Linked DNA regions of Homo sapiens: all the other regions are linked to region 1. The links come from fine-mapping of genetic effects on gene expression. Tissue or cell type: whole blood. Region 1 holds a variant in brackets; each other region holds the start of a gene. All regions are shown on one strand. Distances are between the middles of the regions.

The links. PIP is the estimated chance that this variant, and not a neighbour inherited with it, causes the effect.
Region 2: it holds the start of C20orf204, and the variant in region 1 is fine-mapped to the expression of C20orf204 in whole blood (TOPMed, PIP above 0.99). The same link has a PIP of 0.9 or more in T cells.
Region 3: it holds the start of PRPF6, and the variant in region 1 is fine-mapped to the expression of PRPF6 in whole blood (TOPMed, PIP above 0.99). The same link has a PIP of 0.9 or more in T cells and blood mononuclear cells.

The regions. Positions count from the first base shown.
Region 1 is chr20:64,011,522-64,019,521 of GRCh38, reverse strand. It overlaps PRPF6 (pre-mRNA processing factor 6), which reads right to left. Exons shown (of 21, transcript NM_012469.4): 12 at 2,677-2,799. Among named protein-coding and RNA genes, the nearest start is that of C20orf204, 21 kb to the left of the region's middle. RefSeq lists enhancers at 1,624-2,823, 6,881-8,000. The variant G/A (reference allele first, on the strand shown) is at 4,273.
Region 2 is chr20:64,032,427-64,040,426 of GRCh38, reverse strand. C20orf204 (chromosome 20 open reading frame 204) reads right to left here and starts at 4,245. Exons shown (of 4, transcript NM_001387010.1): 1 at 4,101-4,245; 2 at 2,225-2,500; 3 at 1,979-2,131; 4 at 1,426-1,805. The coding sequence starts at 4,103. The coding sequence ends at 1,668. PRPF6 (pre-mRNA processing factor 6) reads right to left here. Exons shown (of 21, transcript NM_012469.4): 21 at 7,327-7,586. The coding sequence ends at 7,434. RefSeq lists silencers at 1,173-1,452, 1,643-1,962, 2,063-2,132 and enhancers at 2,778-3,371, 3,803-3,902, 3,372-3,965, 4,853-5,082.
Region 3 is chr20:63,977,166-63,985,165 of GRCh38, reverse strand. It overlaps PRPF6 (pre-mRNA processing factor 6), which reads right to left and starts at 4,034. Exons shown (of 21, transcript NM_012469.4): 1 at 3,850-4,034; 2 at 1,951-2,119; 3 at 141-259. The coding sequence starts at 3,920. SAMD10 (sterile alpha motif domain containing 10) reads left to right here and starts at 5,524. Exons shown (of 5, transcript NM_080621.5): 1 at 5,524-5,789; 2 at 7,760-7,941. The coding sequence starts at 5,699. RefSeq lists silencers at 3,740-3,849, 5,410-5,729 and enhancers at 4,920-4,979, 5,575-6,090, 6,076-6,370.

The DNA.
Region 1 (8,000 bases):
GGGAAGCAGCACCACAGCACACTTCTGGGCACAGAAAACACTGTCCTCCTTACTCTAGCATCACGAGCACTTTGAAAAACAGCTGTGCTTACTCCAGTGTATGTGAAAGAGATGACAAAATAATAAGAGAAAAACAGGCCAGGAGCAGTGGCTCTGGGAGGCTGAGGCAGGTGGATGGCCTGAAGTCAGGAGTTCGAGACCAGCCTGGCCAACATGGCGAAACCTCATCTCTATAAAAAATATAAAAATTAGCCAGGTGTGGTGGCAGGCACCTGTAGTCCCAGCTACTCAGGAGGCTGAGGCAGGAGAATTGCTTGAACCCTTGAACCTGGGAGGCGGAGGTTGCAGTGAGCCAAGATCGTGCCACTGGACTCCATCCAGCCTAGGAGACAGAGTGAGACTCTGTCCCAAAAAAAAAAAAAAAAAAAACCAACAACAAAAACTATTACCGCTGCCCTGCGTCTTAACTCACCTAAGGATTGATGTGTGTATTTTAGCATACATGGGGCAGGAGGATGGCCCAGCCGGCACACAAGCTCTGGGTCACGCCACACGGGGTGCAAAAGAATCATGTGTGTATCACACGGTCAATGCCAGCAGTGGGGTCTGATTCCAAGGACCAAAGGAGGAGCCATTGACCAATCCAGATGGAAGGAAGTGAACGCACACGGATGAAGGAGAAAGTGAAGCTCTTCGTTACTGTAGAATTCCAACTAATAAAATGTAAGAGAAACTGTTCACAAAATCATTATGCAGGTGTGACCAGGCACAGTGACACGCCTGTAATCCTACATACTTTGGGAGGCTGAGGTGGGATCACTTGAGGCCAGGAGTTCGAAACCAGCCTGGACAACATAGTGAGATACTGTTTCTACAAAAAAAATTTAATATATAAAAAAAGATTTAAAAAAAATCACCATTTAGCAAACACCACAGAAATAACTGATTCAGGCCAAGAAGCATCATTAATGGATCCTCAAAATACTTATTAATAATAACAAAGAAACAAACAGCAACCATACAGTGGAAACACCTGCGGCCACTGCCCGCACCAGACGGTCGGAGTTGAACAGGTGCACACCTCTCCGTATGATGCACCAAGAAGCCTCAACCCAACCCGGAGGAGACACCACAGAGAACCAGATGAAAGAGGAGTCTACAGCATCACTGGCCCGTGGTCCTCAAAAAATTCACACTCAGGAACAACAAAGGCTGAGGCTCTCTTCCAGACTAGCCTGAGGATGACCCTGTATTCCTCACAGAAGACAGTTGGTTTTTTCTTCTGCTAAAAGGACACAGAGACAACGGGTGAGACTTTTTCTTTTTTTGAGATAGGGTCTTGCTGTCACTCAGGCTGAAGTGCAGTGGCGCAATCACAGCTCACTACGGCCCCAAACTCCTGAGCTCAAGTGATCCTCCCACCTCAGCCTCCTGAGTAGCTGGGACTACAAGCGTGCACCACCATGCCTGGCTTTTGTTTCTGTAAAGATGGTGTTCTGCCATGTTGCCCAGGCTGGTTTCAAACTCCCGAGCTCAAGCGATCTGCCCATCTCGGCCTCCCAAAGTGCTGGAATTACAGGCGTCAGCCCCATGCCCAGCCTGTGGGTGAGATTTGAGTAAGGTCTGAAGTTACCTGACAGCACTGTCCCAACATCAATGTCCTGATTTTGATAACTGAGCTATGGCTGTGTAAGAGAACGTCCTCTTTTAAAGAAATACACACCAAAGTGTTTAAGGTAAAGGGCACCACATCTGCAACTCATTCATTGTCAAACAGTTCCAGAAAAAAAAATAAGAGGTAAGTGCATGAGAGCGAACAGAGTAAGAAAGCAAATCTGCGGCCAGGCGTGGCGCCTCACGCCTGTGATCCCAGCACTCTGGGAGGCCGGGCGCGGCGGCTCATGCCTGTGATCCCAGCACCGTGGGAGGCCGGGCGCGGCAGCTCACGCCTGTGATCCCAGCACCGTGGGAGGCCGGGCGCGGCGGCTCACGCCTGTGATCCCAGCACTCTGGGAGGCCGGGCGCGGCGGCTCACGCCTGTGATCCCAGCACTCTGGGAGGCCGGGCAGGGCGGCTCACGCCTGTGATCCCAGCACTCTGGGAGGCCGGGCGCGGCGGCTCACGCCTGTGATCCCAGCACTCTGGGAGGCCGGGCGCGGTGGCTCACGCCTGTGATCCCAGCACTCTGGGAGGCCGGGCGCGGTGGCTCACGCCTGTGATCCCAGCACTTTGGGAGGCCAGGCATGGCGGCTCACGCCTGTGATCCCAGCACTCTGGGAGGCCGGGCGCGGTGGCTCACGCCTGTGATCCCAGCACTTTGGGAAGCCAAGGCGGGGTGGATCACGAGGTCAGGAGATTAAGACCATCCTGGCTAACACGGTGAAACCCCGTCTCTACTAAAAATACAAAAAATTAGCTGGGCGTGGTGGCACATGCCTGTAGTCCCAGCTACTCGGGAGGCTGAGGCAGGAGAATGGCGTGAACCCAGGAGGTGGAGGTTGTAGTGAGCTGAGATAGCGCCACTGCACTCCAGCCTGGGCGACAGAGCAAGACCCCGTCTCAGATTTAAAAAAAAAAAAAAAGAGTTTTAAAATAGCCTAGTAGTTTATAAGGTGCCTGCTGTTCCCACAAGCAGAGACTCCATATTACGGACAAAGGCCCCTGTTGCCAACTCACACTGTCAGCATCCTCCATCCAGGTATGCTTCCGATCTTCCTCCTCAATCCCAATCCCAATCACGGCACGCATGACGGCCTGGCAGGTGGCCACACTCCCAGCCCTGTCACATTCCTCGGCATCCTGAAAGAGGAACACAAAACTTATTTGTGATTTTGGAAATCAGAGCTGCAGATTCCCAACGGGGAGTACGGAGTTCCTGAACGGTTAAAACTGACAGACATCAGCACAAGATGCTGACACTGCCTACTGGGGATCTGAGGAAGTGAGTCTACTGCACGCCAATCAGAAAAAACAATAGAGAAATGTCACAAAGGACATAGGCACACTGTTCACTAGAAAATAAAAATACAAACAACTTTCAAACATGTGAAAAGAAATGTAAAGCCTTTTTATTTTATTTTTTTAAGAGACAAGGTCTCAGCCAGGTGTGGGGGCTCACACCTGTAATCCCAGCACTTTGGGAGGTCGAGGGTGGATCACGTGGTCAGGAGTTCGAGACCAGCCTGGCCAACCTGGTGAAACCCTGTCTCTACTAAAAAATAAAATACAAAAATTAGCCAGGCGTGGTGGTGGGTGCCCGTAATCCCAGCTTACTCGGGAGGCCGAGGCAGGAGAATCACTTGAACCCGGGAGGCGGAGGTTGCAGTAAGCCAAGATCACGCCACTCCACTCCAGCCTGGGCAACGGAGCAAGACTACGTCTCAGAAAAAAAAAAAAAAGAGAGAGAGTCAAGGTCTCTCCCTGTCACTCAGGCTGAAGTGCTGTGGTACAATCATAGTTCACTGCAGCTTCCAACTCCCAGGCTCAAGGGATACTCTCACCTCAGCCTCCCGAGTAGCACAGACATGCACCACCATGCTCAATGGTACATTATGTTTCATAGATACAGGGTCTCCTTATGTTGCCTAGGCTGGTGTTAAACTCCTGGTCTCAAGTAACCCTCCTGCTTTAGCCTCCCAAAGTGCTGGGATTAGTGCATAAGCCACCACACCCAGCCCCTATTCTTATTTTCAAGATGCTAATTAAACTATTCTAAGTACCATTGTGCACGTATCAGATGAGCAACATTGAAACATGTGCTGACTGGCTCACTTGGTGAAGGGGGCATAAATCTTATACTGCAAAGAAGCACATATCTCTATGGAGGGCAATTTCTCATTCTCTATCAAAATAAAACAGGCACATATTTGACCCAGCAGTTCTACTTTAAGGCATTCATGTGACAAATATATTCCCATGTGTGCAAGAGAATGTGTCTACCAACAAGAGAACAATAACCCAGCCAGAGCAACAGGGTGCAGGAGCACAGGCACCACTGCGGCATGCCAACATGGGGGACCACGACATGGACCGTGAGCAAAGTGCAACCGGAGCCACATGCCTCCCAGACCCTCCCAGGGCCCTGCCAGCACCAGAAAACCATCCCAGACAGAAAGCAGAGCCAAGAGCAAGGATCTGAGGCAGAGACGCTGGCACAAAGGTCAGTGGTGAGAAGAATGCGTGGGGCAAGGACCCAGCACCCAGACCCTCAGGGGCCTGCGGCAAAGGTGCTGGCTCTTCCTCCATGGACAGTTTCTACTGAACGCAAACTGC[G/A]CTGGCTCTTCCTCCATGGACAGTTTCTACTGAATGCAAACTGCTTTTGAACCACGGCAAAAGTCAAACCATGGGAAGTCAGGGACCATCTGTAGTTGCAAATCATGTCTCTGATAAGTGACAATATATCCAGAATATATAAAAACATCTCTTACAACTCAATAATAAAACAACAGACAAAAATAATACATAGACCATAATAAAGACACAATCCAATGTAAAAGTAGGCAAAGGATTTCAATACCTCCATGCTACAACATGGAGGAACCCTGAAAACACACTAAGTTAAGGCCAGTCACAAAAGACCACGTGTCGTGTGATTCCACTCACGGTGTCGGACGATGCAAAAGCCACCACGCTCAGTAGAAGCAATACTTTGACTCAAACCACCAGTCTGTTTTTCACTTTCATCGTAGCATTCAATAAATTACGTGAGTTATTCAACACTTTACGTTCGATGACTCTGCCCAACTGTAGGCTAAGGTAGGTGTTCTGAGCATGTTTGACGTAGGCAGGCTAAGCTGTAAAGTTCAGTAGGTTAGGTGTATCACACGCATTTTATTTCATTTTATTTTATTTTATTTATTTTTTGAGACAGAGTCTCGCTCTTTTGCCCAGGCTGGAGTACAGTGTCACGATCTCGGCTCACTGCAACCTCTGCCTCCGCCAGGTTCAAGCAATTCTCCTGCCTCAGCCTCCCGAGTAGCTGGAATTATAGGTGCCCACCATCATGCCTGGCTAATTTTTTTGTATCTTTAGTAGAGACAGGGTTTTACCATGTTGGCCAGGCTGGTCTCAAACTCCTGACCTCAAGTGATCCACCCGCCTCAGCCCCGCAATGTGCTGAGATTATAGGTGTGAGCCACAGCACCCAGCCTCAAATCCATTTTAGACTTATGATATTTTCAACTTACAATGGGTTTATCAGGATATAAGCCCATAAGTTGAACATCTGTATATAAAATGTCCAGAAAAAAATGTGTAGAGAAAGAAAGTAAAAAAACAAGGTTAGACAGGCACGGTGGCTCACGCTTGTAATCCCAGCACTCTGGGAGGCCGAGGCAGGTGGATCATCTGAGCTCAGGAGTTTGAGACCAGCCTGAACAACATGGCAAAACCGCGTCTCTACAAAAAATAGAAAAAAATTAGCCAGGTGTGGTGGCGCATGCCTGTAGTCCCAGCTACTCAGGAGGCTGAGGCAGGAGAATTGCTTGAGCCCAGGAAGCAAATGTGGCAGAGAGCCAAGATTGATTGCACCATACACTCCAGCTTGGGAGACAGAGACCCACCCTGTCTCAAAAAAAAAACAAAAACAAAAACAAAAGGCTACAGAGGTATGAAAATGGGGAGCAACAACTCACGGACACAGGATTTCTTTCTGGGGTGATGAGAAGGTTCTAGGATTGTGGTGATAGCGCATAGCTCTGTGAATATACTAAAACCACTGAATCGTAAACTTTAAATGGGTGGATTCTGTAGAACGCTAGTTATAGCTTAATAACCTGTCATATGCTGGGTATGGCAGCTGATGCCTGTAATCTCAACACTTTGGGAGGCTGAAGTGGCAGGATTGCTTAAGGCCAGGAGTTTAAGACCAGCCTGGGCAGCATAACAAGACAAAAAATAAAAATAAAAAAAATTGGCCAAGCATGGTGGCACACGCCTGTAGTCCCAGCCACTTGGGAGGTTAAGGCGGGAGGATTGCTTGAGCCCAGGTCAAGGATGCAGTGAGCCATGACTGCACCACTGCACTCCGGCCTGAGCAACACGGCGAGACCCTGTCTCAAGAAAGAAAGAAGGAAAGAAAGAAAGAAGAAGAAAGGAAGGAAGGAAAGAAAGACAAACTGTCATAAAATATAACAGAAAATAGTAATTTCATTATTTATTTTTCTTGAGAGAAACATAACTCAGTGGGTGACTCCTTAAAAGAAGGCATTAGAGGGAACCCAAGCCCTACTTCCTAAGTTAGATCATCTTTGGAAACTTTTCTATAGCCTTAAGTCTACAGACAAAGATAAAAGACAGGGAAGACCAAGGCGGGCAGGTTGCTTGAGGTCAGGAGTTCGAGACCAACCTGGCCAACATGGTGAAACTCTGTCTCTTCTAAAAATACAAAAATTAGCTGGGTATGGTGGCGGGTGCCTGTAATCCCAGCTACTCAGGTGACTGACGTAGGAGAACTGCTTGAACCCAAGAGGTGGAGGTTGCAGTAAGCCAAGATCGTGCCACTGCACTCTAGCCCTCTAGCCTGGGTGACAGAAAGACTCCCTCTCAAAAAAAAAAAAAAAAAAAGGGTGTGGGGGAGAGGGGAAGAGTAAAAGAAGCCATGAGACTTCCTGTCCTCCTCTCGTAGGTGTATCATTTCTACTAGCAAAGAAAGAAGCCATGAGACTTCCTGTCCTCCTCTCGTAGGTGTATCATTTCTACTAGCAAAGAAAGAAGCCGTGAGACTTCCTGTCCTCCTCTCGTAGGTGTATCATTTCTACTAGCAAAGAAAGAAGCCGTGAGACTTCCTGTCCTCCTCTCGTAGGTGTATCATTTCTACTAGCAAAGAAAGAAGCCGTGAGACTTCCTGTCCTCCTCTCGTAGGTGTATCATTTCTACTAGCAAAGAAAGAAGCCGTGAGACTTCCTGTCCTCCTCTCGTAGGTGTATCATTTCTACTAGCAAAGAAAGCCGTGAGACTTCCTGTCCTCCTCTCGTAGGTGTATCATTTCTACTAGCAAAGAAAGAAGCCGTGAGACTTCCTGTCCTCCTCTCGTAGGTGTATCATTTCTACTAGCAAAGAAAGAAGCCGTGAGACTTCCTGTCCTCCTCTCGTAGGTGTATCATTTCTACTAGCAAAGAAAGAAGCCGTGAGACTTCCTGTCCTCCTCTCGTAGGTGTATCATTTCTACTAGCAAAGAAAGAAGCCGTGAGACTTCCTGTCCTCCTCTCGTAGGTGTATCATTTCTACTAGCAAAGAAAGAAGCCGTGAGACTTCCTGTCCTCCTCTCGTAGGTGTATCATTTCTACTAGCAAAGAAAGAAGCCGTGAGACTTCCTGTCCTCCTCTCGTAGGTGTATCATTTCTACTAGCAAAGAAAGAAGCCGTGAGACTTCCTGTCCTCCTCTCGTAGGTGTATCATTTCTACTAGCAAAGAAAGAAGCCGTGAGACTTCCTGTCCTCCTCTCGTAGGTGTATCATTTCTACTAGCAAAGAAAGAAGCCGTGAGACTTCCTGTCCTCCTCTCGTAGGTGTATCATTTCTACTAGCAAAGAAAGAAGCCGTGAGACTTCCTGTCCTCCTCTCGTAGGTGTATCATTTCTACTAGCAAAGAAAGAAGCCGTGAGACTTCCTGTCCTCCTCTCGTAGGTGTATCATTTCTACTAGCAAAGAAAGAAGCCGTGAGACTTCCTGTCCTCCTCTCGTAGGTGTATCATTTCTACTAGCAAAGAAAGAAGCCATGAGACTTCCTGTCCTCCTCTCGTAGGTGTATCATTTCTACTAGCAAAGAAATGCAGTCAGGTGTGCACACACTGAAAGGGCTTCTGAAGTGTTCACCCCAAGACGAACTCCAGGCCTGAATCCATCAAGAGCGACAGTGGGCATGCCCAGGTCCCTCAGGGCCCATTCACACCTGTGCCTGCTTCTGGTTTGGCACAGGACTCCCCAGTACCATCCAGCAACCCCCAGTCCTGCGTGGGACTCTCACGTGCTGCATGTGCACTGTTAAAGCAGACACCACGA
Region 2 (8,000 bases), 21 kb before region 1:
ACACCAGCACGCCCAGCTGAGCCCAGCCACGTCCACAGTTCCCCAGCTCCCTCAGGGCCCTCAAACCGACCCACTCCCCCTTTAGTGCTTCCCATGTTCAGGCTCCCCACAGACCCACCCAGGTACTCCAGCCAGGACCCTGGGCAGCCTGGACCTCTCTCCACCCCTTTGTCCTCACCAACCCTCCACACAAGTCACGGGAACCTTTCTAGATTCCAACTCTAACATCCCTCTTTCACCAAAGACCTTCCGCTGCCTCGGGATAAGTCCAAGCACCCCCCTCAAGTGCTTTGGCTCCAGCTGGGGCTCCTGCACCCTGCATCTCCCCCTCATCCCTCCCACACTTGCCCCCACTGGCCCCCACGGAGCAGGCAATGCAGAACTAGGGCTGGGAATGCTTGCTAGGTGTTTGTGCTCAGAGCATGGCCAGGGACTCTGTCAGAAGTGCTAACTCTGCAGGGGAATCCAAGGCTCTGAAGTCCAGGAAGCTTGGCCCCCAGCCTCCAGGCAGGGGACATGTGGCAGATCCCATGCCCTGGGCCTGGGTCTGAGGCCAGCTCTTACATTGCTGGCTGTGATTTGGGGCAAGTCTCAGCCTCCTCGTGCTTCAGTTTCCCCATCTATAAAACAGAGACAGTAGCTCCCGTTGCACAGACTAAATACATTAACACAGAGTGTGGGGCTGGGTCAGGGTCAGCTTGGGAGGTTACTTCTTTCTTCTGCTGCTGCCCCTGATCCCACAGAATGCCAGAGGCACAGCCTGCTCGCGGCCTTTCCGGGAAGGGGAGGGTAACAGGTGTCAGGTACTTTACCTCCCCTGCTCCTCCATGGGCCGAGATTGGGGGAGGGGGGTGACAGACTCCCAGACCTGCGCATCAGATGGGGGAACCAGGGGACAGTCCCCCAGCAAATGGAGGGTTCCAGGGGCCAGAAAGCGGGCCCCAGCCTGGCCAGTCCTGCAGAGGGGGCTGGGCAGTCTCTGAGCCCAGGCCGTGGTCACCCCTCCGGAGGCAGCAGGAAATAGCCTGGCCAAGCTCACAGCCAAGGCCCGCAGCTCCCGCTTCCCTTCGGGCCCGTTTCCTTTATCCGGTTGTTTTGCTCCGAATTCACCAAGTCCAGCCTTCCCCTCCCCTCAATTTCCACCCCCGGCCCCGGTCCAAAGTGGAGCAGGACGGATACGTGACGTTTTAGGGGCCCCAGGAGTCCCCCGCTCTGCCCTCCGCCCAGCCGGGAGCCGCTGACAGAGCCGGAGCGCGCCCAGCGTCCCGCGTCCGCCCTCTGCTGCCCGAGGCTGGGAGCGGCGGCTCCGCCCCGTCCAGGTGCCACAGGAAGTGCGGGTCTCCGCATTCCCCCTCCACCGCCCCCCGCCACCGAGGCGCAGATCCCGGGGCGGTCCTAGGCCCACAGAGAGGCAGGCGAAGGGAGTGCCGGACCCGCAGCGCCAGCTCCGTTTATTGAGGCCTTCGGCGCGTGGAGGGCGGGCCTCCTCCGTGACCCAGCGGCGGCCAGGCGCGCTCCCTTCTCCAAGTCCTGGGCCCTCCGGGGAGCGCGGGCTGCGTCGAGCGAGGGGCCGAGGTCACCAACAAGTCTACAGAACGAGGCGCGTCTCCAGGCTCTGCCGCGGCCCCGCTGGTTCTCCTCCCCGCGCAGGGCCAGGACGGGCCGCGCTAGGAGTCCCTGGAGGCCGGGGCGCGCAGCGCGAAGAGCTTCTCCCAGCAGGTGGCGACGGCGTCCAGGGCGCGCAGCAGGAGCTGCCTTCGGCCGCCGCGACGCCGGGCAGGGCGCATCTTGGGCCGCCGGCTCCGCTGTCGGGGACAGGGCGGTCAGCGAATGCGCACGGCCCCCGCGCCCGGCCCGGCCCGGGAAGGGAGACGCGACCCAGCCCGACTTCAGCCTAGGGCCGTGGAGCCCCGGGACGCGCGGCGGCCCTGTGGGGGTTAAGGGAGGTCTGGCTCTGGGTGCACTCAGGGACGCACACCTGGCGCAGCGTCCTGCAGTGGCGCCGCATCACCGCCTCGGTGCGCACAGCCACGGTCCAAGCAGCTCTCTCCAGGGCCCCGCGGCGGCCCCCGGCCACCGCCCCGCGCAGGGTCCGACCCAGGGACGAGATGGACAGGAGGATACTGTGCTCCTGGGGAGGGAAGGGAGGAAGGCGGGGTGGGGGTGGGGGGAAACTGAGAGAGGAGCAGGCCGGCGAGCTTGGGTAGGGGCGCCTCCTCCATACCTTCTGGGCGCCACAGGAGGCCCGAGGCCGTCCCCGCCGTCCCGAGCTCCCGGGTCTAGTCAGGTTTTTCTGTATGAAATGAAAGTGTCTGGAGCCTGGCCTGGTCTTTTCGGCCCCCGCCCCGCCCCACTTCACGGCGGCCTGCAGATCCTCGAAGATGATGGCGCGATAGTGGCGGAGCACGTCGGGGACGCTGCAGGCCGGGGAATAGGCGCGGCTTGGCGCGGTCCCCAGCAGCGCCAGCAGGAGCGCCCAGAGTGCAGGCTTAGGGGGTACCTGGAGGAGACAGCAGGTTGGGGTTAGGCCTGGGGGGTGTTCCCAGCACAGGGAGCAGCCAGCCCACCTGCACTTTGTTTCCGTAGAAGCCCCACCCCCTGCCCCACCCCACGGGATCTCTGAGCGAATGAAATGGACGTGTCACCAATCAAGAAAGGCTGTAGGCACAGGCCTGGCGGGATAAATCAGGAGACACAAGAGATAGGTCTGCAAACCAGACAGTTCTATGCTCCCTGCAAAGATGTGAAAGGGGTGAGTGATGTCGGCTGGGAGGCGATGTCACTGAGTCCTGAAGAACCCATCAGGAGATAGAGGGGGCAGGCCCAGAGTCAGGAGAGCCTGGCTCTGTGGTCCACGTGGGAGTGGGGCCAGCAAGGGGTGGAGCACCCTCAGGACCGCACAGAGCAGGGCCCCCCACCAGCCCCGTACAGCTCTAGTGGGGCTGGTCTGCAGGCTCTTGGGGGTACAGTAGGAAGTTGTCCCAGTACAGCCTGTCTCACTCATGGCCATGCCCATTCAACTCCACACCTCCCATACTGGCGCCCTCTGGGTTAGCTCACAGAGACGTGGGAACTGGGGACTCCTTGTACCCCCAACCCAACTGGGGCAGGGGCTCAGAGCTCCAAGCCACACCCTATTGGAAGGGGAAAGCTAGGGGGACACCCAGAAGCTATAGAGGAGGAAGGAGCCACCACATCCAGCCCCAACCAACAGTCGCAAAAGGCCCCTCTGCCTGTACCAGCCGCCCCACGCCATCCCTCCGGGCAGCCTGTGCCACAGGCCTCCCCCGACCCAAAATGGAGGGCCTGCGCCCGCAGGGATAAAGCCCAAACATCAAGGAGACAGCTGACGGCCCCCAGGTTCCCAGCCACCCAAAAGGGGCCAGCCCCAACCCTTCCCCTGGGCCCCCAGGATGGAGTCAGACAGCAGATCTAGGGCTGGAAATTAATCATGCGAACCCAACCAAGATAAGAGGACTCGACTCGGCTTCCTAGCCCTGTCAGGGGAGCCTGAACAAGCAGCACCCCAACCCTTGCATAGAGCTGGGGGCCTGGTGGGCGGTGGCAGCTCCTGCTCAGAGCACAAAGCAGCAATGGCTGGAAGAGCAGATGGCTTGCTGTGGCCCCTTCCTGAAACCTGACCCCCCCAACCACACACGCCACAGCCAACTTGGTGGGCTCAGAATTGCCACGTCATTCCCTCTGCCTGCTCTGGGTCAGAGGTCATAGCGAGAACCAGAGCCTGACTCCTGAGCAGGCCAGCTGGAGCTGCAAGGATGTCCAGCACCTGCTGTGTCCCACCCAGGTGGGGCAGACTGGCTGCCCTGGGAGTCCCAACTGGCCTGTTAGTACCACTTCCAGGCTCAAGCCTCAGCCCAGCTTAGAACAGGGTTGCCCGGCACCCAGGAGCCCCCCTCCCCCAACTGCCAGAAGCCAGGGCACATGCACCCAGTGCCACCCACAGGGACGCAGTGACCAGAGCCAACCGGAGATTTCCTGGTGGGGCTCAGGGGAACAAGCAGTGTCTCCTGAGCTGTGTGTACCCCCAGCCCCTCCACCCAAGTAAGCCCCCTCCCTAGAGGAGGCCCACAGCTGCTCACCATGGGCCTTTCAGGGTCTTGCCCTCCCTCACTCCCGCCAGCAGGCCACGCACATGATCCTGGGGTCCTTGGGCAGGGTGTGCACTGCCGCACCAGGTCCAACACCAGCCAACCGCTTCCCTGGACAGGCTGCCTGGAGGACTGCAGAGGGGCAGGCCAGGCGGAGGCTTTTGAAGTTGGCTCCTCCAAGCTGAGGGAGGGAGCAGGAGAGGGAAGGAAAGGCCACGCAATCCCAGCCCTGCCCCCTCCCTCTCTCCACTCCCTATCACTTCAATTAACCTGGCCCTGGAGCTGGGCAGCCACCTCTCCCAGGGGATCCAGGGCTACTGTGGGTCTTGGATTAACTTGTCCGTCCCAGAGATACTGTTCTGTCAAGGAGGGGTGAGGCGCCGCGTGGGCTGGGGCAGTGCAGGGCCCAGCTGGTGGGGGAGGGGAGCCAGGTGAGACTGGGGCCGACTCTGTGGCCAGCAAGTGCTGCCTCTCCCAGGGATCTGGCTGATGGGCAGAGCTGGTGGGAGGCCCTCATCCCCTCCCCAGCTGCCGGACCTGCAGCCTGACATCCAGGGGGCCCTGCCCCAGCAGGTCCCAAGACATGGGGCTTCCCGGGCCCCCGCTGCTGGCCCGGCCTCACTCCTCCTGGGCTGAGGGGTCTCTGGCTGAAGAGGTAAGTCTGAGGCTGTTACTCTGCTGCCTGCCGTAAAGATACCCAGGAGCAGGGTGGGCTCCCCCGATCCTTGGCTGCTGTCGCTTCTGCTGTGGTCTGGGGCACTCTGGTTAGCAGCCTGACAGGCAGTGGTGAAGAGGCACCTCAGAACACGAGCAACCTCTGAGGCACAACTCATCTTTGCAGGCTGAAAAAATTTCAGTTGAAGACAAGTTAAGGTAGTTTCCCAGGGGGAAAAGTCAGTGACTCACAATAGTCAAGAACAGACCACACAGGTGACAGGAGTCCCCTAGGATTGTAACACTGCATCTTTACGTTTTTGCCTTTTCCGTGTTTGGATGTGATTAAATGCTGTGACAGGCTGTGCAGGTCTGCAGCCCAGGAGCCCCAGGCTCTGGCACCCGGGCACACAGCCTGGGGGTGCAGGAGGCCGTGCCTGCCAGCCTTGTGTAAATGCACTCTTTAATGTTTGCAAGACGACATCACCTAACGAGGTTTTTCTCAGAATGTATCCGCACTGTTAAGTGGCGCACAACTGTGGTTTGGCCAACTCAAAGCATTTGAGAAAACCCCACACAGGCAAGAAAGAGGAGACACTCACACATGGACAATGTAAGCGCTCCGGAACTTTCCAAGGGCCCTGCAGGAAGTATCCCCTGAACATGGCCTGAAACATTCTTTTCTGTGTGACCCCTCAATGCCCACCCAGCACTGGCCATTTCAGCTCTGAGGTCAGAGAAGGGCTTCCTTCCTACGCCTCGGTTTCCACATCTGTACAGGGCCAGGCTGGCTCACAAACTTCCTGGGCCTCGGTTTCCACATCTGTACAGGGCCGGGCTGGCTCACAAACTTCCTGGGCCTCGGTTTCCACACCTGTACAGGGCCGGGCTGGCTCACAAACTTCCTGGGCCTCGGTTTCCACATCTGTACAGGGCCGGGCTGACTTCACAAACTCCAAAAAGCTGCAGGACTCTCTTCATCTTCAGAATAAATGTTGAGGGCTCCCTCATGCTTCCGTCTCTCCATGAGGGATCAAAGGAAACTCCTCCACAAGTTCCAGTGAAAACACTCATGAAGCTCCTGCAGCTGCTCCTCAGGACGGGGCGAGAGGAAGGACTTCCACATTCCAACGATTTGAGCTGGACCCCAGGTTGCCTGCCCAGCAGAGACCAACCAGCAGTTCCTGACCCCATACAGGGGTGGCAGGTCCCTTGCCCGGGATTGACCATGTCCTCAAGGTCCCCAGAACCACAGGGAAGGGGGACCCACACCCACATTCTGGTCTACCAGGACCGCCCCACGTGCAGGCAGGGATCTCCCACCCCAGCCATTCTCACTCGTCAGGAGCAGGGCAGGCAGACCACAAGGCCTAGCACAGGCCCCCATGTGCAGGTGGGCAGAGCTGTGGGTCAGTGACTGACCACCACCACAGGCCCTGCCATCGGTACCACAAGACAGGCCGGGACCCTCCAGGGCTCCCCTCTCACAAGGAACATCCAGGGACAGCTGCTCTCCAGCAGCCTCCTCAGCCCACATGACAGCGCCCTCCTCCCCGCCCGCTGGCCTCAACGACTGTCCACCCACACCCTCTGGGCCAGCCATGACCTCCAGCCAGATGTCTCTAGCCCCGGCCTACACAAGAACCAGCTGGCTCCCAACTGAATGCACACACATGATCCCAGGCCTGAGGACGTCCTTTATCCTTACACAGCTAAGGCTGAAGAGAAGCCAAGTCTCTCGGGTGATCAACGTTCAACCTAGAGATGAGAACCATCACTGTTCAACCTGGAGATGAGAACCATTACAAGGGCTTTAGGGTTAAACTGCGAATGATAAATTAGCAAAGATAAACTCACGGCCGGGTGCGGTGGCTCACGCCTGTAATCCCAGCACTTTGGGAAGCTGAGGCAGATGGATCACCTGAGGTCAGGAGTTTGGCAGCGGGCGCCTGTAGTCCCAGCTACTCGGGAGGCTGAGACAGGAGAATTGCTTGAACCCAGGAGGCAGAGGTTGCAGTGAGCCGAGATCGTGCCACTGCACTCCAGCCTGGGCGACAGAGCGAGACTGTCTCAAAAATAAAAAAATGAACTCACCTCCAAAAGAAAGAACGCCTCTTACTGGTGACACTGTCACTCAGCACATGCCTGAGGGGCCCGGGAGGCTGTGTGGAGAGGCCCTGCGCAGAGCTGGGTTCTCCTGTTTGCACTCAGACCCCAGGGAGGCCCCAGCTGTCCCCTGACCAAGACCCTTGCAGGCGGCTGCCAGGCTCCTGCGAGCACCTGCGTCCTGCATGCAGCTTGGTCCCCACTGTCTCCAGCTGTCCTCACAGGGCTTTTGGCCAGAACATCTGCACCCCTACCACCTTCTCCACAGTCTTGGGGAACCCGGGCACCTCCACAGTGCCTCCTCTGTGAGACACCGGCTGTCTGCAAGAGGCTTCTGTCCAAGCAAGGGCGATCACAGCCACCCCAGGACGGCATGGGACAGGCCAGGACAGGCCAGACTGGGGCAGCAGAAGCAGGAGCCAGAGAAGGGCCCCAGAGAAAACCAGCAGGCTGCCTGTTCTGACACGAGACATAAAAACTTTTAATGAAGGAGGACACAGCTCAGAGCCCTTCCACATGCGGCCCAACCCTGCCCCACGGAGACCGGCCATGGCAACCGCTCAATCAGAAGGTGTTCTTGATGCGGCCGGCCACCAGCCTAAGGATGTCCCCGATCTTCTTCTGCCAGTTGGCGATGTCCTTGGACACGGCGCACCACAGCTCCCCATGCCGAGGCTCTGCACTCTCACAGCGCTTCCTCACCTCCTCCTGCTGCTCCTGGGGGGACCACAGGGCACGTCAGGCAGGGGTCCTCCCACGCTACTCCCCGGACCTCGCCTGCTTCTCGCCTGGCCCCTGCAGACCTGGCCCTGGCAGCACCAACCCCAACTGGCGGGCCAGAGGGCACAGGCCCTGCACCGGAAGGCAAGGCTCTTTCAGGTGTGTTCCTCAAAGGAGCCCCACCTCCTGAGGAGCATGGACCCCACCAGCCTCAGCCCACAGATGAGGAACTGAGCCAGGCTCCCCATGTCTGTGCCTCACACAAGTGCTCACGTCTGCCTTCTCCAAACAAGGAGTTAGGGTTCACGTGGGCTGGCAACACTTTCCAGGGAGGACCAGGACAGCCTGACTGCCTCCAGCACAGCTCAGACAACGCTTGGCTCTAGCGGGGCGGGTGGGAGCAGAGGGGCT
Region 3 (8,000 bases), 34 kb after region 1:
TCTCAAACCCCTGGGCTCTAGCTATCGTCCTACCTCAGCCTCTCAAAGTGCTAGGATTACACACGTGAGCCACTGCGCCTGGCCACAAAACTTTTTTTTAAACTTGGATAAATATTGTGAAAGGCAACAATTTCTTTTACCGTCTTTCTTTTCTTCTTTCATCCATCCTTTTATCCAGGGCTGCATAGATAGCATCTGCTTCCTCATCATCTTTCTCGTAGGGTCCACTTGAGAAGAGGCTCCCAGCATAGCCATTAAACTGAGAAGCAAACAACACGTGTAGAGGTCAGCTTTTCCTTCAACACCATCCCCACCAGCGAAACGGAGATCTCTACTTGTGAAATACTTGCTAAATTATTTTCTTCAGCCAACGAAGCCAAATCAAGGGACAGTCTACCATATAACTGGTGACTACTCTTCAAGCGTCAAGGGCATGGAAGACAGAGGAGACCCCCAATTGGAAGGGACCAAGGAGACATGACGAAATGCAATGGGGGATCCTGGACTAAGCCTAAGCCAGAAAGCGGACATTCATGGAAAAACATGAAATGCAAATACGACTGACAAATTAGTTAATAGTACTGTGTCAATGTTAACTCCTTCGTTTCAATAACTGCACTAAGGTCATGTAACATCGGGAGAAGCTTGGTGAAAGACATGCAGAAACTTTTTTTTGGGGGGGCACTATTTTTGCAAATTCCTGCAAATTTAAAATTATTTCAAAACTAATTTTTTTTTTTTTTCTGAGACAGAGTCTCGCACTCTCGCCAAGGCTGGAGTGCAGTGGCGCAATCTTGGCTCACCGCAACCTCCGCCTCCCGGGTTCACAGCATTCTTCTGCCTCAGCCTCCCGAGTAGCTGGGACTACAGGCACATGCCACCATGCCCGGCTAATTTTTGTGTAGTTTTAGTAGAGACGGGGTTTCACCATGTTAAACAGGATGGTCTCGATATCCTGGCCTCATGATCCGCCCACCTCGGCCTCCAAAAGTGCCAGGATTATAGGTGTGAGCTACCGCACCTGGCCTCAAAACTAAAATTATTTTTAAAAATTTTCCTCAGAGGAAAAATGTCATCTGTTAGAAGACAGTTAATCGGTATTCAGTCAGCTGAAGTTTTTCTTTAGATGTCTGTTTAGAGGGCAATCACTAAAGCTAAAAAAAGCAAATACTATCACCAATTCCACTTTAAGTTTTTATCATTAAAGACTGGCAGCCAGGCGCAGTGGCTCACGCCTGTAATCCCAACACTTTGGGAAGCCGAAGCGTGCGGACAACCTGAAGTCAGGAGTTCGAGACCAGCCTGACCAACATGGAGAAACCCTGTCTCTACTAAAAATACAAAATTAGCCAGGCATGGTGGCGCATGCCTGTAATCCCAGTTACTTGGAGACTGAGGCAGGAGAATCGCTTGAAATGGGGAGGCAGAGGTCACAGTGAGCTGAGATCACACCACTGCACTCCAGCCTGGCCAACAAGAGCGAAAGTCCGTCTCAAAAAAAAAAAAAAAAAAAGACTGGCCAATAGGAAATGCCAAGGCAGTGGTCCTAACACCTGCAAGAACATCTCTTCCGACAAGAGCGAAATTCCATCTCAAAAAAAAAAGACTGGCCAATAGGAAATGCCAAGGCAGTGGTCCTAACACCTGCAAGAACATCTCTTCCGACAAGAGCGAAATTCCGTCTCAAAAAAAAAAAAGACTGGGCAATAGAAAATGCCAAGGCAGTGGTCCTAACACCTGCAAGAACATCTCTTCTGAGGGACAAAAAGTGCACATTTCTCCGTGTTTTTCCTGCTCCCTCTCACTCTCAGTAAAGATGTTCCATGAATAGCTAAAATTTAAATGCATGAGCCACTCCAAGCCATTCATTACAGACACCAACACACACTGGTTAGGTCAGCTGCTCCCAGAGACTGGCTGGAGGAGCCACGAAAGCCGGACACATCTCACCTCATCGTAATTGGTGTCATTTAGATCCTCGTCGTCATCGTCAGCAGCCTGATTTTTCTTCATCTGGTCCCCAACGGTTCTCTTGCCTGGGGGTGCATGGCGATCATCCACAGGGTCATTTGCATCACGGGCGGGCCCAATGTCTGACCGCGTGGTGAAGCCAGTGGCGCTGCAGGAGACCCCCAAGACACCGGGTGTCTGAATAACTCTGTTCCTGTGCTCTTCTCCACTCCTGGTTATCACTTACTAACACCTCTTTTTCTAACACCTTTGGGAAACCTCCAAAGATCCTGGTGACAATGAACTGCAGTCTCAAACACTTCTGATCTTCTCTGCTTACCTGAAAGTTTCAGCCTACCCTGATGATGTTACCAAGGCAATCTCTCTCCACCCTAAGGCTTCGATCATCTCCCCCTCCACATCCAACCAGGCCCTTAAACCCAACTTGGCCCACACTGAGCTCTTCCGTGCCCACCTTACAGCTGCTCTGGGGGGTTTCAGCTGATAACAGCTGTCCCAGATGCCACGGGACCATGATGTAATTTTTGCCTCCCTCTCCCACTTTCCCCATCCTGTCTGTCCCCAAGTACTAATGAATCCACTTTCAAAATCCCTCCTTCCCAGACTATGACTCCCATCACAGCTGGAAACCAAGTTACCTCTCCCTGCCTTTAGCCTTCCTCTACTTCAACCCATGCTCTGCCAGATGATTCTTCCCAAAACACAGCTCTGAGTAAAAAATTCTGGGCCGGGCGTGGTGGCTCACGCCTGTAATCCCAGCACTTTGGGAGACGGAGGCGGGTGGATCATGAGGTCAGGAGTTCAAGACCCCCCTGGCCAACATGGTGAAACCCTGTCTCTACTAAAAATACAAAAATTAGCCGGGCGTGGTAGCGGGCACCTATAATCCCAGCTACTCAGGAGGCTGAGGCAGAGAACTGCTTGAACCCGGGGGGCAGAGATTGCAGGGAGCTGAGATCGCACCATTGCACTCCAGCTTGGGCGACAGAACAAGACTTTGTCTCAAAAAATAATAATAATAATAATAATTCTGAAGGGTCATGATCTTTCTAACGTCTCCAGGAGCTCTAGCCTGACGCTCAAGGCCCCTCCAACCTCCTGAGCTCTATTCTATTCGCTGTACATTCCACTCACACTGGACTCCCTCCTGTTCCCTGGGCTTCCTCCTTGCCTCACTTTTTTTGAACTCCCACACGCAGAATGTCAGTTTCTCTTCTATCGTCACCGTTTCTACAGCCCTAAGTCCAGCTCTCTTACTAAACTTGGCTCCAATGCTACTCTCCATTAAGCACTGGGTTCTAAATCTGGTCCTCTTTACGTACTTATTTATGGTAATAGCAAACCCTCCTTAGTGAGCTTGTGTGTGCCCCACAGATTCCAATATAATACCACCACCAAGAAAAACCCAGTAGTGTTCCTCATCAAATGAATAGCCAAATAGGATAATAACGACTGCTCACTTATCCAGCAACGCACGGTGGTCATCTGTGTTGCAGGCATAGAGGACCCAGGCACGCTTAAGGCGGGGCGGGCGGGCGGGCGGGGGGGGGGAGTGTCAGCCCGACCTGAGGAAGGTGGTCGCGTGTTTCCACTACACGTCAGATTCCTCTACTCCTCACTGCAGACCGTATACAGCATTACCCATCTTACAGACCAAAACACTGGGCTGAGAGTCAATGTGTCACATCTAGGCGGCAAGCAGGGTGCACACACAGGTATGTCCTGACCCCAAAGCCCGTTGCTTCCTGCAGGGATTAAGCCGATCCACCAAGCGTCTTTCAGACTGCGCGGCCATAGACCCCCGCCCCCAAACACGCCCCAAAGCACTGCGCTCCTGTAGCCGGGTCCCCGCCCCTCGCGCGCCGCCCCAGGCCTCACCCCCGGCCCAGCCCCGGCACGTAGCCGAGGGGCGCGGGCATCCCTAGGAACGGTTTCTTCTTCTTGTTCATGGTGGCGGCGACGACCAAGGCTAGGAAGGAAAGGAATGAGGCAGCGGAAGAGGGAAAGACGCAGAGACTCTAGGCTTCGACGTCCGATGCACTCCGTAGCAAAGTGTCGCCGTCGTCGCGTCACCCGCGCCCCGGAAGCAGAGCGCTCAGTCCGCACACGCCCCGCCCACTTTTGATTCCCTGGGCGGAAGTCCCGACGTCCTGGTTCGACGACTTCCGGCCGCGGCTAGGGGGCAGGAACGTGGTAGGCGCGTGCGCGGGAGCGCCTCCTCGTGGAGAGGCGGAAGAAGCTAGGTCGAGCTTGCACTGGGACCCTAACTGGCCCCTGGGGGCTAAAAACAGCCTGGGGCATTGCTGCTTCCCGAGTGCTCTGATGCAGTCCGGAGACCTGTCTGTGAGAGTGGGACCCATGGTCCCCTCCCTCTGAACCCATGGCCCCCTCCCTCTGAACCAGCCCAGCTGCCCGCCCTCGCCCCTGGTGCGCCCTGTCCGAGCAGAGCTGTACCCTGTCCAGTTGTGTAGAGCTTGTGTGTACTGGTTATGGGCACACCTGTCTGTGTGCGTCCTGTGCGCACACTGCTGCCCTACGCTTTTAGCACTCATATTCTTGAACCCCCATTCAGGCATCTGTCCCTCCAGTGGGACTAGAGACCCCACCCACGCCCGCCAACATGCCTTGGACATTCTGGTGAGGGCCACATCCTTAGCTCCTGGAGAGCTAATTGACGAAATAAATAACCGCAGCTGAGCTGTCGGGAACACGTCAGTACATGAACATGGCTGTCAAGCATGTGGGTGAATTCTGTGTGTGTGATTAGTGGGGTGTGTGCACAGAGGTCACGTGTGCTCGTGTTTTGGGTGCAAGTGCATGACTGTACTCTGTGCATGCATTTCTACATGTCTGTGTGCATCTCTGGTCCTCCTGCTGTAAGACATCCTCCAGAGCCCCTACATACACCCAGGGAGAGCACCCAGGCTCCTGGGCAGAGCAAGCCGAATAGCTGGTTGCAAGCCTGGCCTGCTGCTGCACCAGGCAACCACAGTTCCCTAGCCCAGCCCCATCTCAGCACTTCTCACTGGAGTCCTGGAGCAAACACACCGCTCCGGCCTGCTACAGCCTCCTTGGAGTTCCCCTCTGCCCCATCTCCAGGCAAGCCAAGCCCCTTTCAGTTACAGAGCACTGTACCGCCCCCTCTCCCCCGGGCACTGAGCCAGGTTCTGGGGCTGCAGAGGGAAGGGAGAACCACCCTGATGTTCACAGTGGGGTGGGCGGTAAGCAAGAGTCAAGCTGGTTTCTCCGGGGAAGCGGGTGCCTATTTGAAGGCGAGTAAAGACGTAGGAGACCGAGGAAAGTGTGTGGGAGGCGTTGACCTGCCCCTTGTCCTGGCCCCGGTAGGTAGAAGACCCCTGTGAGATGCCCCTCAGCCCACCCCCACGCACAGAGGGGCCCGACCTCAGAGGACGCCCGGCAGGTTCACGGGGACTCTCCTCCGCGGAGCCGTGCCCAGGGGCGCACGGACGCCCCTCGCCCTGGCGGACAGCCTTGGTGCACGCAGGCCCGCGCGCCGCCGACACACCTCGGAGCTCCCGGAGCGCGCCCGGCACACAGGGCTCGGCGGCAGGTGCCTCGTCGCGCACACTCGCGGGCCGCGGGGACCGGCTCGGGCGCGGGGCCGGCTGGGGCGGGGCGGGGCGGCGGCGCGCGTTCCCCGCCGGCCACACCGGCCGCCCTGCACTCGGCGAGGGGCGTGTGCGCGGGCCTGGCACCCGCGGGCCCCATGTTCACCGAGCTGAGGTCCAAGCTGAGCCCCCCGCGTGGCCGCGCCGGGGCCGTGCGCGCGGGCTTCGGGGAGCGCCGGGATGTGGACGGTGAGCGGGGCTGGATTGGGGAGCGGGGATTTCTCGGGCGGGGGTCTCAGGGACCCAGAGGCACGGGGGCGGGGCGGGACCCGGCGGGCTTCGAGCGGCGGTGGCTGGGGGTATTCGGCGGATGTCTCGGCTCAACGGGGTCCCGTAGCCTTTGTCCTGCTTTAGGGGGCAGCCAGCCTCAGGCCTTGGGGGTCAGCGCGCCCTTGGCTTGGGGTGAGGGGGTGTCAAGCCGGGGCGCCTGTGTCCAGGCTGGCACTACGCTCGGGTCACCTTTTCCTGCGCACGGGGAAAACCCTCCCCCGCTTTTGCAGTGGGGCCGAAAGGGGGCCGAGGTCACATCCCGCCTCGGTGCCCCCGCCCCATTTCCTTCTGGAATCCTGACGTTGGGGCGGGAGGGACCGGACCGACAGACCGCGGGACGGACGGAACTCCCTCCGGGAGTGCAGGCAGGAAATGGGCGGAGCCTGCTTGGCCGGGGCAGGTGCCGTGCGGGCTGAGGAGTCCGACGGGTTTCCCCGGACTGCCGCGCGCTTCTGCACCAGCCCCGCCGCTCGAGGCCCTGCAAAGCCCGGCGACCACGGCGCCTGTCCGCTGGAAGGCGCGGGCTTAGAATAAGCCTTTTCCCACAGCACTAGGGGCCACCTCGGGGCGGTGGCCCACTGAGCACACCCTCTGCTGACCCCAGACCTCAAATTTGGAGTCACCCAGGGGTCCGGTTCCTGAAAGTTGCAAGAATGGGGGCGGAAGGTGTTATGTCTCCTAAGTCTTACAGGCGTGGGAGGACGGGGAAGTAGGATGTGGTTTTCACCGATACTTAGACCTCCTAGACACATCCCCAACCCCTGCCCTGGGTGTGGAGTGGGTGGCTGAGTCTGAGGCCGGGAGGGTCTCTCACTCTAGGGTGGATGGGATGAGGGCCCTAGCGTGGGAACCTCACCTGCCCTGCTGAAGGCCTGGGTGCTAGGGTGCTGTAAAGACAGGGGCAGGCCTGTGCCCACCTTCTGTCTCCCCACAGGCTCTGTTCACTTGCAGATACCATACAGAGCCTTCATTCATTCATTCATTGACAATGAATGTGGGGTGCCCCTCTGTAACCAGACCTGGATCAAGACGCCTGCCTCCCCAGACTCAGGTCAGCAGTGCCCCCAGAGATGATGACAAAGCTCAGATGAAACACTTTAATGCAGTTACTGTGGGAAGAGGGAGCACAGAGCATCACCGTGGGTCCCCAAGCAATGGCTGCACCCCACATACCTGTGCTGACCCGCCCATATCCAATGGGTACCCACCATTCACATGGCCGGTGTTGTCCCGGGCTGCAGGCCCTGTGGGGGGCGGCACAGCTGGAGAGCCCAGCGCGTGTTTGCGGAGTGAGCCCTGCTTGTCAGTTGGCCCACAGTTCAGGCTGTCAATGAGTCATAGTCAGTGAGTCGGGCCCCAACACCAGATAGGGCTGTGTGAACTGGGTGCCTTCAGTGGCGATGGGCAAGCAGCATCCTCAGCCCGGTTTCCCCAGCACAGACGACCTCCCCGGACTCGGGATCTGCCTTTCCTCAAAGCAGGCCGTGTGTGCACTTCCTGGTCTGGTGTGGTGTGTGCAAGACTTGTGGGCCAGCCCAAGGCAAGGGTGAGGTCAGGGCTGTCCCAGGATAGCTCCTCTTGTCATATGTCTCAGGTTCCCTTCCCTAGAGGGCACATCCTCTGATCTAAGAATCCATCCTGCTCCCCTGGGTGAGGGCTGTAGACTTGCAAGATGAAAGGTGTTTCCAGTTCTTCTCTTTTTGTGCTGGGTGAGGTCCTCGAAACAGGTCCTGCACACTTCCTTCTGCCTTTGGAGGCTTGGGAACCCCTCATTGGGGAGGTGATTTCCCGCACTAGTGTGGAGGAGATGGGGCAGGGAGCTAGCTCTCAAGTAGAGGAAGCCTCTGGTTCTGCCCTTGACTGCCCTGACCAGGCACCCCCACACACAGCCACTGCCCACTTCAGCTTCTGCCGGACCCTCCTGGAGCACACGGTGTCAGCTGAGAGCATCCCCTGCCACTTGCCTCGGACACCTGGCACCAGCCTCACGTGGCATGACTCCCGCAGCCAGAGGGCGGCCAGCAGCAGGCCAATCAAGCTCCTGCAGCAGCCCGGCACAGACACCCCCCAGGTACCCACCCACTCCACCCACCTCCGTCCCTGCCCTCCTTCTCCACCACTCTCACTCTG